2 separate regions of the Homo sapiens genome follow, and region 1 is linked to region 2. The links come from fine-mapping of genetic effects on gene expression. Tissue or cell type: pancreas. Region 2 holds a variant in brackets; the other region holds the start of a gene. All regions are shown on one strand. Distances are between the middles of the regions.

The links. PIP is the estimated chance that this variant, and not a neighbour inherited with it, causes the effect.
Region 1: it holds the start of LINC01484, and the variant in region 2 is fine-mapped to the expression of LINC01484 in pancreas (GTEx, PIP above 0.99). The same link has a PIP of 0.9 or more in liver and lung.

Annotation. Positions count from the first base shown.
Region 1 is chr5:173,742,468-173,750,467 of GRCh38, reverse strand. LINC01484 (long intergenic non-protein coding RNA 1484) reads left to right here and starts at 4,259. Exons shown (of 3, transcript NR_108027.1): 1 at 4,259-4,448. RefSeq lists enhancers at 6,137-6,306, 6,437-6,486.
Region 2 is chr5:173,686,076-173,694,075 of GRCh38, reverse strand. LINC01942 (long intergenic non-protein coding RNA 1942) reads right to left here and starts at 4,617. Exons shown (of 3, transcript NR_146727.1): 1 at 4,523-4,617. RefSeq lists enhancers at 3,752-3,801, 3,902-3,981. The variant A/G (reference allele first, on the strand shown) is at 4,554.

The DNA of each region.
Region 1 (8,000 bases), 56 kb before region 2:
TCTTACCCTCTTTCTTTCTGCCTGGGTGCCGTGGCTCGTGCCTGTAATCCCAGCACTTTGGGACACCAAGGTGGGTGGATTACTTGAGGCCAGGAGTTCAAGACAAGCCTGGCCAACATGGTGAAACCCCATTTCTACTAAAAATTACAAAAAAAAAAAAAAAATAGCTGGGTGTGGTGGTGCCCACCTGTAATCCCAGCTACTCAGGAGGCTGAGCATGAGAATCACTTGAACCTGGAAGGCAGAGGTTGCAGTGAGCTGAGATGGTGCCACTGCACTCCAGACTGAGTGACAGAGCGAGACTTTGTCTAAAAAAAAAAAAAATGCTCTCTGTAAATGTGGTCACATTTTGAGGTACTAGGGGTAGGACATCAACATATGAATTTGAGGCCAGGGGGACCCAGTTCAGCCATGACACCTCCCTTTACTGTGAGGGGTCAACGTGCCTTTCTGGGTCCACCCACTGTGGCCTATGGAATCTTTCACAGCCTCTCAGCAGCACAGTCCTCGGAGCCACAGCCTGGCCTCCTTGGGTCTCCGGCCAGAGAAGGCTCTGCTCAAGTGTCATCTCCTCAAAGAGGCCTTCACTGACCATCCTGTCTAAACAAGAGCTCCCCTCCCCTAGCCACACAAATTCTCTTCACAGCCTCTATCATCGCCTGGACTTGGGTGTGTTATTTGCTGGCTTACATATTATCCCTCTCCCTACTAAAATGTTAGCTCCCTGAAGACAGAAATTTTATTTTGTCCTAGCTGTACTCCCAGCATTGAAAAAGTCACCGGAGCCATGGGTTGGAGGGAAGGGGCGGGAAGCGGGGAGGGCTGAATAGGTGGATCACAGGGAATAGTGGCATCATGCATATCACGATGCCTTTGTGCAAAGCCATAGAATGTACAACACAAAAAGGGAACCGTAATGTAAACTAGAGGCTTTAGTTAATAAAAATGTATCAGTATTGGCTCATCAGTTGTAACAAATATAGCACACCCATGCAAGATGTTAATAACAGGTGGTAACGGGATTGGGGGGCTTTGGAAGTAGATGAGAACTCTGTATTTTCCACTCATTTTTCTATAAACCTCAAACTGCTAAAAAAAAAAATGAAGTCTACTAATTTCTTCTTTTTTTTTTTTTTGAGATGGAGTCTTGCTCTGTCACCCAGGCTGGAGTGCAGTGGCACAATCTCTGCTCACTGCAAGCTCCACCTCCCGGGTTCATGCCATTCTCCTGCCTCAGCCTCCCGAGTAGCTGGGACTACAGGCGCCCGCCATCATGCCCAGCTAATTTTTGTATTTTTAGTAGAGACAGGGTTTCACCGTGTTAGCCAGGATGGTCTCGATCTCCTGACCTGGTGATCCGCCCGCCTCAGCCTCCCAAAGTGCTGGGATTACAGGCGTGAGCCACCGTGCCCGGCCGAAGTCTACTAATTTCTTAAACAGCACGTAGTACATAGTAGGTACACAGTAAATATTTGCTGATGACTGAAGGATTCAAATCATCAGCCTCAATTTATGGAGGTTTATGCCATGCCCCACATGGTACTGCAAAAAACCCAAGTGAGGTACAAGGCATAGACCCTCCAAAGAGTGACAGAACTCACAGGAAAAAAACACAAGGTCAATGGCAATTAGGTCAATGATAATTAAAACACAAGGTCAGTGGTAAACACAATGTGAGTGGTGATTAATTCATTCTGAGGCTCCTGTAAATTGCCTGCAGGGAGGCTGTGCTACTGGCCACCTGCAGACAGTACCCCAGCCCCCACCTGAGGCTGTGGGAATGCCTTGTAGTCAACAAAGCGAGAGTGACCCCCAACCACTGAGGATTGCCTGGGTAGGGTATTCCATGGCGTGAGCCACATGACTTCTCAGAGGTCCCCAGCAGGCTGGAGCCCAGCTAGCCTTGGCAATTACCTGTCCATCACACACCATCCCATGGTTTTACTCTGTTCCCTGTGTCACTTCCCTAGTCTCTCACCAAGATGCCTGGGGTCACCTTCCAAATAAAAACCTTGCCCCAAATCATTGTCTCAGTGTCTGCTTCCTGAGGGACCTAAACTAAAACACTACCCACTGTAAAAGGCGGTACAGAGAAGGCTCTCCATAAGGGGTAATCACTGTTATCATGTTACTAATAGCAACAGTAATAACGAGCATCATAATGATGAAATAACTGAGACCCCAAGAGGGAGGGTCTCTTGCCCTAGTTCACTTCAGAAGGTAGATGGCATAGGGGTTTCTAATCTAGTCTGTCTGACTTCAACATCTGTGAGATCCCACACACCCACACACCTATGCACTCTGAGTTGAAATGCCTGCTGCAGATTCCCAGGGCTCCCAAGGAGCTGCTCTTGGGGGTTAGATGATAAGGATGGCTGGAGTAATCCCAGAGAGCTTCCTGGAGGAGTTGGCATGGAGTCTCAAGAGAAGAACACAGATTCTGGAGTCAGGCTCAGATTTGTGATTGGGTTCTATGTCCCTGAGCAAGTCACTTTAACTACTTGGAGCCTCAGTAATCCCATTGGAAATGGGAATAATGGGGCCCAGCTCACACAATTGTTATGAAGAGTAAATGTATTGGTGAAGAGAACAGGTTTTAGACTGAGAGAGCTCTGAGTTGGGATCCCGGTACTGTCACTGACAAGCTTAGAAAAGTCTTTTTTTTTTTTTTTTTTTTTTGAGATGGACTCTCACTCTCTCGCCCAGGCTGGAGCACAGCGGCACGATCTCGGCTCACTACAAGCTCTGCCTCCTGGGTTCACACCATTCTCCTGCCTCAGCCTCCCAAGAAGCTGGGACTACAGGCGCCCGCCACCACGCTGGGCTAATTTTTTGTATTTTTAGTAGAGACAAGGTTTCACCATGTTGACCAGGATGGTCTCAATCTCCTGACCTGGTGATCCGCCTGCCTCGGCCTCCCAAAGTGCTGGGATTACAGGCATTAGCCACCGCACCCCGCCTAGAAAATACTCTTAATCACTCTAAGCCAAAGTTCTTTCATTTGTAAAATGGAAATAATATTAGTTCCTACCAGTAGAATTATAGTGAGAATTAAATAAGATAGCACATGTAAATCCCTTAACATGGTGTATGAAATACAGTCAATGCTCACTAAATGTTTGGTACTTTTCATCAAGATGTTAGCGGCAATGGAGTAAATTGTACAAACTATTTTGGATATAATGTGGCACATCAAATTAAAACTGAACACACCTATGGCCCAGTGATTCCACTTTTAGGGGTTTATCCTATGGATATATCAAGATACATGTGTGAGAATGCTGACTGGAATACTGTTTGTAACAGCAAAACACTGGAAACAACTCAACTGCCTCAGTAGTGAGGGAACTGGTTACATCAATGGCAGCAATACCCACAAAGAAATGCCACGTAGTTGTCAAAGGAGAAATGCAGATTCATGAGTGGGATGTACAGAAAGATGTCCAAGGTATACTGATAAGTAAAAAGGCAAGTGATAAAAGAGGTGTATATATTAACCTGTCTCTTTAAAACTTTTTTTTTGAGACAAGCTCTCACTCTGTCACCCAGGCTGGAGTGCAGTAGCTCAGTCACAGTTCACTGCAACCTCCTCCTCCCAGGCTCAAGTCATCCTCCCAAGCAGCTGGGACTACAGGTGTCTACCACCACACTTTACTAGTTTTTTGTATTTTTAGTAGAGATAGGGTTTCACCATGTTGCTGAGGCGGGTCTCAAACTCCTGGGCTCAAAGAGATCCTGTAATCCCACAGTGCTGGGATTACAGGGGTGAGCCACTGAGCCTGGCCTTGTCTTTTTGTTGTCGTTGTTTGGTTTTGTTTTTTAAAGGCATACACATGTGCTTAGAAGTATTCTAAAAATATTCTCAAGGAAGTGTGAACCCAAAGTATCTGAGACAGTCTTAATCAGTTTAGAAAGTTTACTTTGCCAAGGTTAAGGACGCACCCATGACATAGCCTCAGGAGGTCCTGAGGCCAAAAATTGTTTGGCCCCAAGGTAGTTGAGATACAGCTTGCTTTTATATGTTTTAGGAAGACATGAAACATCAATCAATATGTGTAAGATGTACATTGGTTTGGTCCAGAAAGGTGGAGGGGGTGGTTTCCAGGTCATAGGTAGACAAGAGACAAATAGTCGCATTCTTTTGAGTCTTTAATCAGCCTTTCACTGAATACACAATTTACATGCGGTGGTGGGGGGCGGGGGCGTAGAAGAATAGTCACTTATGCCTTAGTCTGGCTCAGTGAATCAGCATTTTTACATAAACAATAGGGCAGAGGAAGCAATCGGATAGGCATTTGCTTCAGGTGAGCAGAGGGATGACTTTCTGTCCCACATCTGTGAAGATCAGCTGTTGGTTTACATTGCCAGGGTGAAATTCAACAGAACTAATTTAGGGTGAAGATCTTGAGGCCCACAAGGAATTTCCTTGTGGGAAAATTGTGAGGAAGGTAAGTAGCTTTTAAAAATCTTTGTAGCTATCTTCTTCAGGAAGGAAATGGGTGGTGGGTTTGCCCAACATGGTTTCCAGCTTGACTTTTCCCTTTGGCCTAGTGATTTTGGGGTCCCAAGATTTATTTCCCTTTCACAAAATGATTAACAGTGATTATTCTAGAGCAGTGGTTTTGCAGGGGCGATTTTTGCCTCCTACGGGACATTTGGCAATGTCTGGAGTCATTTTCTTGGTTGTCACGGGGCGGGGAGGGGGGTGCCACTGGCATTGAGTGGCTAGAGGCCAGGAATGCTTCTAAACATTCTACAGTGCACAGGTCAGCCCACGACAAAAAAAAGAAAAAAGTTTGGCCCAAGATGTCAATAGTGCTGAGGCTGAGGAATCGCTGAGAGGTTTAAGAGGTTGAGCGCTCTCAAATGTGGGGAAGAAGACTTATTTTTCATATAATGCTTCTCTGATGCTTGCATTACATTAATAGCAACAGCTACAAAATCTGCCCACTCTTAGCTATGAGCTAATGCGTGTAAGATGCCAGCATATAGTAGGTGCTCACAAGGTGTTCCTTTCTTGCTGCGCTCTGGCTTTCACATCTGCAGAAATGGGTGTGCCAACACCTGCTCTGGGGGTGGCTGCAAGGCTCATTTTAGGCTACAGTTCAGGCCCTGACCACCTGGCTCTGGGTGCAGCTGTTAAAAGCGTCACCAACCTGCCCGGGGGCAGCTTCCCATATCCCTTCCTCTGCCACTGGTTATTCTGCTGAAGTTCAAGGGCCCCCAGCTGCTTCTCAAAGCAGGAACACTTCTGCAAAACACATCCTGAATTTGAATAGCCATGTTGCTGTGTCTCTGACAGACAGGGCTGCCAGATAAAATTCAGGACATCCAGTTAAATGTCTCATGCAATATTTGGTATATACTTATACTAAAGAATTATTCATTATCTGGAATTCAAATTAAATTGAATCCATATGTATATAGCTGTTGTTGTTGCTGTTTTAATCTGGCAGCTCTACTGTCCAAGCAAGGTAGAGATGAACTGTGTGCTCTTTTCCAAGGAGCTAATCTCATCAGATAGAGATTTTGCTTTTGTTCCATCAAAAGTCTTGCTCACTTACCAAGGGAGCTTGGATCCTGCTGGGAGACTAAGATGGTCACTGCCTCTGACAATTTCGTAAAAATCTCAGGCTCCTGGGGCTTATTCAGGCAAGTTGGGAGGGACGTTTCTGAAACACGTTTGGCCCGGTCATTACGGAGGAGGAGGGATTGAGAGCAGAAAGCAGAAGCGAATGGAATTCAGGCCTCAGGATGCCTCCCCGGCATAGGCCCCATCAGAAGCCCTATTGTATGTTTGTAAGTTCAGAGGCTCCTTCTTAAAGAGGCGCTACACACTGTATGAGCCCCAGGGTCCACCAAGTCTGGGGTCTGGTCCTGGCTGAGAGGGCAGTGCACTGAAGCTGTTTATCCAGTACCTGCTACGTGCCCAGCCATGAGCACACTCCTGGGCCAGCATCCTGGGCTAGGGCTCACTGTGGGTATTCTACAAAGGGGGAAACCAAGGCTCGGAGTGGTGGAGTAACTCCCCCAATGCCACCCAGCTGGGAAGTGGCAGAAAAAAAAAAAAAAAGGATTTGAACCTGGGTTGAGTTTCCTCTTTGCTGGGAACAGCACCTCAGGGCCCTGGTTCCTTGGGGCCGGTTGAAAGGAGAGAGTTGCCTCCCTGAGGGTCTCTGCTGGGTGTAAGCACTGCAGGAAGGGGCTGTCTCCTTAGGGGAAGTTAGGGCCCTAGCCAGGGCCAGAGCAGGAGTAGGTTCTGGGAGGACAACTGAAAGTTTCAGAATTATGCTCAACATCTAAAAATATCAAGCACCGATTTCATGGCAGGCAAAGTTGCTAAGAGACTTCACAAGCATCATCTCATTTAACCTCCCGGCAACCTTGTGACAGTTTGATCATGTGCTGCGTTTTGCAGATGAGAGAACTGAGGCCCAAAGAAATGCTGCATGTACCCAAAAGCACCCGGTGGGTAAGGAGAACAAGGATTTGAAGCCAGGCCTTCTGAGAGAGGGGAGGCAGGAGAGAGGCAGCACTGGACTCCCACGCGGGGCAGTTCGGGGACTGTTGGATTAGTCTCCTGTTACTGCTGTAAAAGATTACTATAAGCTTAGTGGCTGAAAACAACACAAATTTATTACCTTCCAGTTCTGAAGGTCAGAAGTCCAAAATAGGTCTCACTGGGCTAAAACCAGTGTGTCAGCAGGATTGCATTCCTCCTGGAGGCTTTAGGGGAGAAGCCATAGCTTTGTTTTTCCCAGTTTCTAGAAGCCACCTATATACCCTGGTTCACGACCCTTCCCTCCACTCCAAAGCCAGCAGCATAACATCTTCCAGACTCTCTCTGACTCACTTTCGGCCTCCCGTCTCCATTTTTTAAGGACCCTAGCGATTACCCTGGGCTCAGCCAAATAATGCAGAATAATCTCTCCATCATGAGATCCTTGACTTCATATCTTAAAGTCTCTTTTGCTATGTAAGGCAACATAGTCACAGATTGTGTGGATTGGGACATGGATGGCTTTGGAGGGGCCATTGTTCTGGCTATCACAGTGCTGCCTTGGCCTTCGTTGGGCTTTGCCTCTGTTCTGGGAGTGAGGGGTGAAGTCATAGAGCTGGAGGAGGGGGTAGGAATGGGGCTGGGCTGGTGGTTGAAGAGCGGCAGTGAAACAATGATCCTTGATGTGGGACCACGGGCATGGGGGTCACAGGATGGCCTCCCTGAGACGTCTCCAGCCAAGAATCTGAGGAGAACACTCTGGGCACTGCCATATTCCAAGGGGCATGGAACCATGCCAGGGGCCACATGGCTGGGCTCAGCACCTCTCAGAACTGTCGCCCAGGTCTGCATCATTGGGTGGGACTAGGGAGGGACTCAGACAGAAGGACATGTGGAGTGGCCCAGCGGTTCACAGCCAGTTATGCTAGAATAGTATAACCCTTTCACCCAGAAGTTCTATTCCTATGAGTTTATCCTGCAAATAGATCTACCCCTGCATGAAGTGATATATGCAAACTTAATTACAAGATTATTTATAAATTAGAAATAACCTAACTGTCCATCAGTAGGGGACTATCCTGGTGGTACAATCATAGAGTGGAGTTCTACGTTGTCATCAAGAAGGCTCTTTACATATCACCATGAAAAAAATCTCAGAGAAAAATACGGATCAGGATACTATGTTGAGCATGCTACAATTAGTGCAAAACTGGACAAAAGGAAGAATGTATTATATATAAAATTTATATTTGCATAAAACATCACTGCAAGATGACGCATGAAACTGAAAGCATTGGCTGCCTTGAGGGAGGAGGAGGAGTGTGTGCCTGAGAGACAGGGTGGAAGGGAGGTTTGTCATGATTGACTCGTTTCACTTTTCAAATGTGGAACAATATGAGTATGTTCCCTACTAATAAATGAATGGTTAAAGTGTTTTAAAGAATCCTTTGAAATCATATGTTCAAAGAAATACTCAATTGTCTAAGTTGGAAGAAACTGT
Region 2 (8,000 bases):
CTCCTCTCTAAAATGGGGATGGCCAAGACTGCCTGCCTACTCCACCCAGTCCTCATGCGGTTTCAGGGTGAAAAGGGTGGAGGGCACTGGATTTGTTTGCTGTGGCTGCTGTGACAAACTACCACAAACTGGGTAGCTTCAAACAACCATTTCTTATCGAAGCATTCCAGAGACCAGAAGTCCAAAGTCAAAGTGTGGGCGGGGCTGCACTCCCTTTGCAGGCTCCGGGGGAAAATCCTTCCTTCCTCCTCCAGCTTCTGGTGCTTGTTAGCATCCCTTGGCTTGTGGCTGCATCTCTCCAATCCCTGTCTCCAGTCATTATCTCTGCTTCTCCTGTCAGGCTTCTCCTCTCTGCGTGTATTGTAAGGACACTTGTCATTGGATTTAGGGACCACACAGATAATCCAAGATGACTGCATCTCAAGATCCTTAACTTAATTACGTCTGCAAAGACCCCTTTTCCAAATGAGGTCACATCCATGAGTTCCTGAGATCTGGATGTGGGCATATCTTTTTTTCCAGTGGCAGGGAGCAGCGTCAACACTCAGCCCGCTGCAAGCAGCTCATAAGTCATTTTAGTGAACATGAACTGCATCCTGTTGCTAGGGGCAGTAGATTTGAGAGTGCATGCCAGCCTGATGGGTTGGTGATGGTGTCCTGGAGAGTAAGAGCACATGATAAAGGAGCAGCTGGTATCTGCCAGGCAGTGCACTGAGTACTTTGACAATTTATCTCATTTTATCTTCACAGCAAGATACATTTATCTTCCCCTTCCTCAGATGGGGAAACTACCTGAGGCTCAGAAGCACGAAGTGACTTGGCCGAGGTCACTCTCACAGTAAGAAGTGGAGCTGGCATTTGAACCCAGGCAGGCTGTGATTTCACAGGCCATGCTCATAAACACTGCTATCCACTGCCTCCCACAGATACAAGCGGGCCTGAGGTTGGCAGGGAAAGAGGCCACAACTAAGGACCACATGTGGCAGGAGGCCTCGTAGGTCATATCCGTGCGTAGTTACAACAATAATGGTAACTAATGTTAATAATCACAATAATAATCACAGCTAATGATGATGACACTAACATTACATGTGGTGTTGTGATCATGGGATCTTCCTACAGCCAGACACCGTGCTGTGTGCTTTTAGTGTATTATCTCATTTAATCTCACTAGCACTGCGAGGAGGAACCTACTGTTATCCCCATTTACAGGCTGGCCCAAAAATCCATGGACTGTAATATGACAACTCACAAAAACAAAGAACTCACAGGGAGAAGAGAACAGGGTGGAGAAGCCACAAAGCTGGGGCAAATTACTAAAAAGAAATGTGTTTCAGAATGTCCTGGTTTTCAGCTTGGCCCTTGCCCCCTCACTGAGTAAGACTGCAGTACCTTGCTGTCTGCATCTCATTTCCAGAGAGGGCTCAAGGAAGCCCCAAGTCCAGTCTGCCCAGAACCGAGCATGTCATCTCCCCCGCCAAGACGCTCCAACCGCCGCAATCCTTGTCCATCAGGCATCCAGGCCAGAAACTCTGGCTGCCCCCACCTCCCCAATGGTCCCCATCAAGTAGGTAACATCCTGCTGATTTTAACTCCTGTGCAGCCCTCAAATGCACAACTGCCTCCCATTCCTGCACAGTGCCCCAGTTCAGGCCTTCACCACCTTGTTCCTGGGCCACTGCCCAAGTCTCCCCCGACTGCTGTCTGGACTTCTAATACTTTTCCAACTCCCCACTCATTAAATCCATCCCCCTCTCATTAGCTGGTGTGAATTGAGGAAAACTGAGTTCCAGCCATGTCATCCTCATACTCATGACCCTTCCAGGCCTGCAGGACCTAGTTCAAACTCCTTAACTGCATGTACAGTACATGCCATTATCACCTGCCACTTCCTCCCTTTTCATCCTTATCTTCCACCCCTCCTTCAATCATGACTCAGCTCCCCAGCACTGACCTGGTTGTAGCTCCCCATCTACAATGTGCTGTTTGCACCTCAGGGCCTTTGCACAGGCAGGTCTCCCTGAGGAAATGCCATTCCCACCTTCCTGGTCTCTCTGTCCCATTTTCCAGCTTGCATACTCTTTGAGGGCAGGGACTGTGTCTGTCTTGTTCACAGTTTTATCCATAGTCTCAGGATAAAGCCTGGGTCATACATAGGAGGGGATTTTTTTTGTTTTTCTTTTCCTTTTTTTTTTTTTTTTTTTTTGGTTTTTTGTTTTTTTGAGACACAGGCTTAGGCTGTCACCCAGGCTGGAGTAAAGTGGGGTGATCTCGGCTCACTGCAACCTCCGCCTCCCGGGTTCAAGCGATTCTCCTGCCTCAGCTTCCCGAGTAGTTGGGACTACAGGCGTGCACCACCAAGCCCAGCTCATTTTTGTATTTTTAGTAGAGACAAGTTTCACCATGTTGGCCAGGCTGGCCTGGAACTCCTGACCTCAAGTGATCCACCTGCCTCGGCCTCCCAAAGTGCCGGGATTACAGGCAGGGGCCACAGCGCCTGGCCTTTGGGTTTTTTTTTTTAATGTTTTAATTAATTGCCAATATTTCAATGTTGGGTGATTTCATAAAAATTCAAATTCAGGCTTCTCTTGAAGATATTGGGATCTGGCAACCCTGAGCCTGGTCCCTGAATGACAAGAATGGGCTGGGTTGGAGTAGCTGCTGCCGCTTCCACCAGGTCACTGGCTGTCCAGTCCTCACTGGCCCACCCAGCCCACTTCGTTCATCTTTGTCACCTGCCTGGCCCTTCTGGTGTTTGAATTTTCAGGTGTCGGGCACATCGAATTTAGCTATGAAATCCTTCACTTATGCACATACTTATTTGGTCTCCGATATGTGGCATGCCACATATCGGAGGCCAAATAAGCTGACACTTACATCAGATTAAACCTGCTTTTCTTAGCAAAGAGAGAAACAAGATCAGTCACAAAGAGTCATTTATGCCCACGAGATTTTAAAAAGCACAAGCTGTCCAAAGTCAGCGCAGGCATCCTCATAATGAGGACAGAGGGACGGGTCCTCCAAAGCAGCGCTTCTCCAACTTTAATGTGTGCAGGAGTCACCTGCGGCGTCTGCTAAACTGCAGGTTCACATGCAGTGGGTCTGGGACAGGGTGTGAGACCATGTTTCTAACCATCTCCCAGGTGAGGACAATACTGCTGGTCCCTGGACACACTTTCAGTAGCAAGGCTCTGTGACATCCCTGCAACAAACTAGAGGGTCCTAACCCCCGGATACCTCGGCCATCTCCTGGAGGCAGTGCCACCACCCCTCCTGCCTGGACAGAATGTGTTGTAGGTCATTCAGGTATTCTTGGAATCCACCTCTGGTGTCACCACTGGTGCTGAAGGTAGGAAGCCCTGTGCTTGGAATTCCCAGCTGCTTCACTGTGGTCCAGGACAGGGAAGCATGGGAAGCAAGGGACACACAGCAAGTGGAGTGGGGTGACGGTGGGGGTGAGGGTGGGGGTGATGAGTAGGGTGGGATGAGGTTGGGTGGGGCGAGAGTGGTGTGAGGATGGGTGGGGTGGCAGGGCCCAGCAATTTATGCCTCTACAGGTGCCCTTCCCATTCCCCACTCCCTACCACCCTTGAGTCCCAAAGTGGGTTGTCTCACGGGGTCTGAGATGCTCCCAGAGGGACCAGAAGACCTGGGATCGAATCAACCTTAGTCACAAACCCCAAATTGCAAGTGTGTCGTTTTGAGCAGCCTTCACAGGCAAGCTCATGTTCCCGGCCTGCATATTATTTTTCCAGGCGGCGGGAGGGAAACCCTTTGCCCTCCCACATCACGGATCTCAGAGGAAGCAGAAAGAAATTGACACAGGCAGAATGGGTCTCAGGGGCTTCTCACCCTGAGCCTGTAAACAGGAAGTGCAGCTATACTCTCAGGAACACCCTGGTGTTTGCCGGTTTGTTTTGCAGCCTTTGGGCCCATTCAGATAAACAGAGGAGAGGATTGCCAGAAACTCACTGAGCCCTTCATGGCACTCCCTATCTCGGCAAGGTTTGGTGATACCAAGGCTGCTGGCCAAAGATTTGCATGGGGGGAGGGACGGGGCCCGTGCTATTGGCTGCAGGGAGGGTCCCACCTTCCCCAAAGTCCCCTTCTGCCATGCCCTGAAAGAAATATTTCTCGGGGCCATCAAGGGTGGAGAAGCCAACCTGTCCCTGGTGGCTGCAGCTGGCATAAAGCCGGCTGCAGCAGCGGGCAGGAGGAAACAGGAGATGGGGTGCCAGGCCCATATCAGGCTGCCTGCTCTTGGCTTTCATTATTGTCCTATGTTTTCAAAGTACCAGCTCCGGAGGGGGCAGGAGAGGGTAGAGTTTTGAGACTTGTTCGGCCTAGGTATACATAAACAGCAGCAGACAAAATGTCCTTTATCAGCTATTTCCCAGGAAACAGGGAGAAAATTCTTCTCAGCTCCAGATGATTAAAGAAGAGACTCACCCTTCTGGGAGACAGCCCTCTCTTTTTCCCTCTCCCCTTTGCGGAACACTAAGGCACTGTTCCGGATACCCACCAGGAGGGTCCCTGTTGGAGAGGAGGCAGCC[A/G]CAGGGCTGGAGGAGGAGGTCAGCTGCTAAGGGGACCAGTTCACTGCCAGCCGGGGCACAGAAATTCTTTCCCAGGAAAGGGGATGTTACGTAGCCTGCTGGGTAAACTGGAAATTATTAACCAGGGGATGAGTAGAATCAAAAGGTTTTGAAAACTGGTTATTGGCTCTACTGGGAGTTGCAAGCATGCTAGGGAAAAAAATATCACAAACCTATTTGGAATTTTTTTTCCCCCTGAACCAGGAAGAGGCGTTTGTAATAATTCTGTCAAGTGAAGCTCTCCAGTGTTCTTTCCTGCTGGTATGTCAACGGTGGTTTTGTTATTTCTTCACACAGATGGCCAAGGAAACAATGTATTTTTCTTTTCTTTCTTCCTGGTTTTTCCCCCCGCAAAAGAATTTGAGTCTTTCTAAGCTGGCCATTTCTTATTTTTTTCCTATTTCTGATTTAGATAAAATGGTGACTTCAAAGGGCCTTTGAGACCACTTACATCACAGTAGAGTTTGAGGTTCCCTCTCATCATAAAAATAAAATAGGTGCCACCTCCCACCATGGTCAGTGAGTGTCTGGATCTGCGTGGGTGCCTCACAGCAGGGCTTCTCCAAGGCATGATGTGTGTGCAGACCACTTAGGGATCATTAGAAGAGCCTGACTCAGCAGTTCAGGGCCCTCGGTGTCGGCATTTCTGACCACTCCCATGGGGTGCCCATGCTGCTGGTTTCTGGACCACTCATTGAGAAGGAGGGCTTCTTCCCCCAATCTCATCTAATCAACCCTCATCTCTAGTTGGCAGGATTGAATTTATTTAAAGAAGCTGAGGGATTTCCCCTTTGAAAGAGAGGCAGACAGGCCTTAAGCAATCTTTTTTTTAATTTTTATTTTTTATGAGATGGAGTTTTGCTCTTACTGCCCAGGCTGGAGTGCAATGGTGCAATCTCGGCTCACTGCAACCTCTGCATCCCGGGTTCAAGAGATTGTCCTGCCTCAGCCTCCAGAGTAGCTGGGATTGCAGGCATGTGCCACCACGCCTGGCTAATTTTTGTATTTTTAGTGGAGACAGGGTTTCACCATGTTGGCCAGGCTGGTCTCAAATTCCTGACCTCAAGTGATCCACCCACCTCGGCCTCCCAAAGTGCTGGGATTACAGGTGTGAGCCACCGTGCCTGGCCGGCCTAAGCAACATTGAATCTGCCTTTGGAACAGGCGGTGCTGACATGGCACAGTGAGCAGATGTAAGTAAGATACCTGTGGGTACAACACGCCCGGGCTCGAGACATCCTCCCTGAGCTGCGAAAGAGGGGCATATAGACTTTGGGTTTTGGAGGCAGAAAGGTAAAAGTTCAAATCCCAGCTCTCCTACTTACTAGCTGGATGGCCCTGGGTAAGTCATGTCACCTCTGTGAGCCTTAGTAAATGGGGCTGTAAAATGGGGGTAAACTCTACCCCCGAGGGTTATGGTAAAGAGCAAATGAGAAAACACACATAGAGCACCTTGCATCTGCCCAGCGCCTCATATCTGCACAATAAATGGTAACTTTTCATTTACCCAGCAAAGTCAATGAATACCTACTAATTTCCTGGTCTGTTCTCCACACTAGACATATAAAGGGAAAAAACAGATATGGTGGTCAGAATAATGCGCCCCAAAGATGTCCATGTCTTAATCCCTGGAATTAGTGAATATGTAATCTTACATGGCAAAAGGGATTGTGAGATGCGATTAAGGCTAAGGACCTTGGAATAGGGAGATTATTCTGGATTATGCAAGTGGGTCCAATGTAATCATGTGGGGATGAAGGCAAAGAAACTTTCCCGGCTATGGTCAGAGAGAGATGCAATGGCTTGGAGGACGGAGCAAAAAGCCACGAGCCAAGAAATGTAGGCAGCCTCTAGAAGCTGAAAAAAGAAAAAAAAAAAAAGATTCTTCCCTAGAAGCTTCCAGAAAGGAATGCAACTTACACCTGTGTTGCACTTCCAACCTACACAACTATAAGATAATATATCTGTATTGTTTTGGCTGGGGGCGCGGTGGCGCATGCCTGTAATCCCAGCACTTTGGGAGGCTGAGGCAGGTGGATCACCTTAGGTCGGGAGTTTGAGACCAGACTGACCAACATAGAGAAACCCCGTCTCTACTAAAAATACAATTAGCCAGGCATGATGGGGCATGCCTGTAATCCCAGCTACTCAAGAGGCTGAGGTAGGAGAATCGCTTGAACCCAGGAGGTAGAGAGCTTGCAGTGAGCTGAGATTTCGCCATTGCACTCCAGCCTGAGCAACAGGAGTGAAACTCCACTTCAAAAAAAAAAATTATGTGTGTATATATATATATATATGTATGTATTGTTTCAAGCCACAAAATTTGCATTACTTTGTTACAGCAGCAACAGAAAACATCCAACTGACACGATTTCTGCTCTCACAAAACTCACACATCTGATGTGGATAGATGAACTAATTGGGTAAATGAATAAGTGAGCAAGGAAAGATGGAGTTACACACCATGAACACATGCAGTGATGTGACGGGAAATGAGTTTTGGGGACTGGGTGCCCAAAAGTCCTCTCTGAGGAGCTGGTGTTTCTGCCAAACCTCAGTAACAAGCAAGACCAAGGCAGGAAAAAAACAGACCCATGCAGAGGGCTCGGCAAGTACAGGGTCAGTAGTAGGAACAAGCTGGGTGTATTTTCCCATGGAACAGTGGCCAGTGACGGGGGAGTGGCATGTGAAGTTGGAAAGGCCTGTAATGGGCCAGACCAGGAAGGAGCTGGATTCTAAGTGTGATTTCTATTCTTCTGGTGTATCACCGAGCACATGCTGTATGTCAGAGAGAGTCACCGAGACCTAGCAGAGCAGCAGAGACGTGGCATATTGGCTTGCCTGAGTGCTTTGCCATAACAAAGCGCCCTAGACTGGGTGGCTTAAACAACAGAAATGTATTGGGGTTTTTATCCCAATACATTTTATTCCAAATGTAATATCAAGGTATCCGCAGTGTTGGTTTCTCCTGAGGCTTCGCTTTGGCTTGTAGATAGATGGCTGTCTTCTTCCGGTGTCTTTATGTGCTCTTCCTTCTGTGCGTGTCTGTGTCCCATCTCCTCTTCTTATAAAGACATCACTCACGACTGGGTGTCGTGGCTCACGCCTATAATCACAACATGTTGAGAGGCCAAGGTGGGATAATTGCTTGAGCCCAGCAGTTCAAGACCAGCATGGGCAACATAGAGAGACCTCATCCCTATAAAAAATAAAAAATAAAAAGTAGCCGGGTGTGGTGGCATGCACCTGTAGTCCCAGCTACTCCAGAGGCTGAGGTGGGAGGATTACTTGAGCCTGGGAAGTGGAGGCTGCAGTCAGCCATGATTACCGCCACTGCACTCCAGCCTGGGTGACAGAGTGCGACCCTGTCTCAAAAAAAAAAAAAAAAGACATCAGTTATATTGCTCA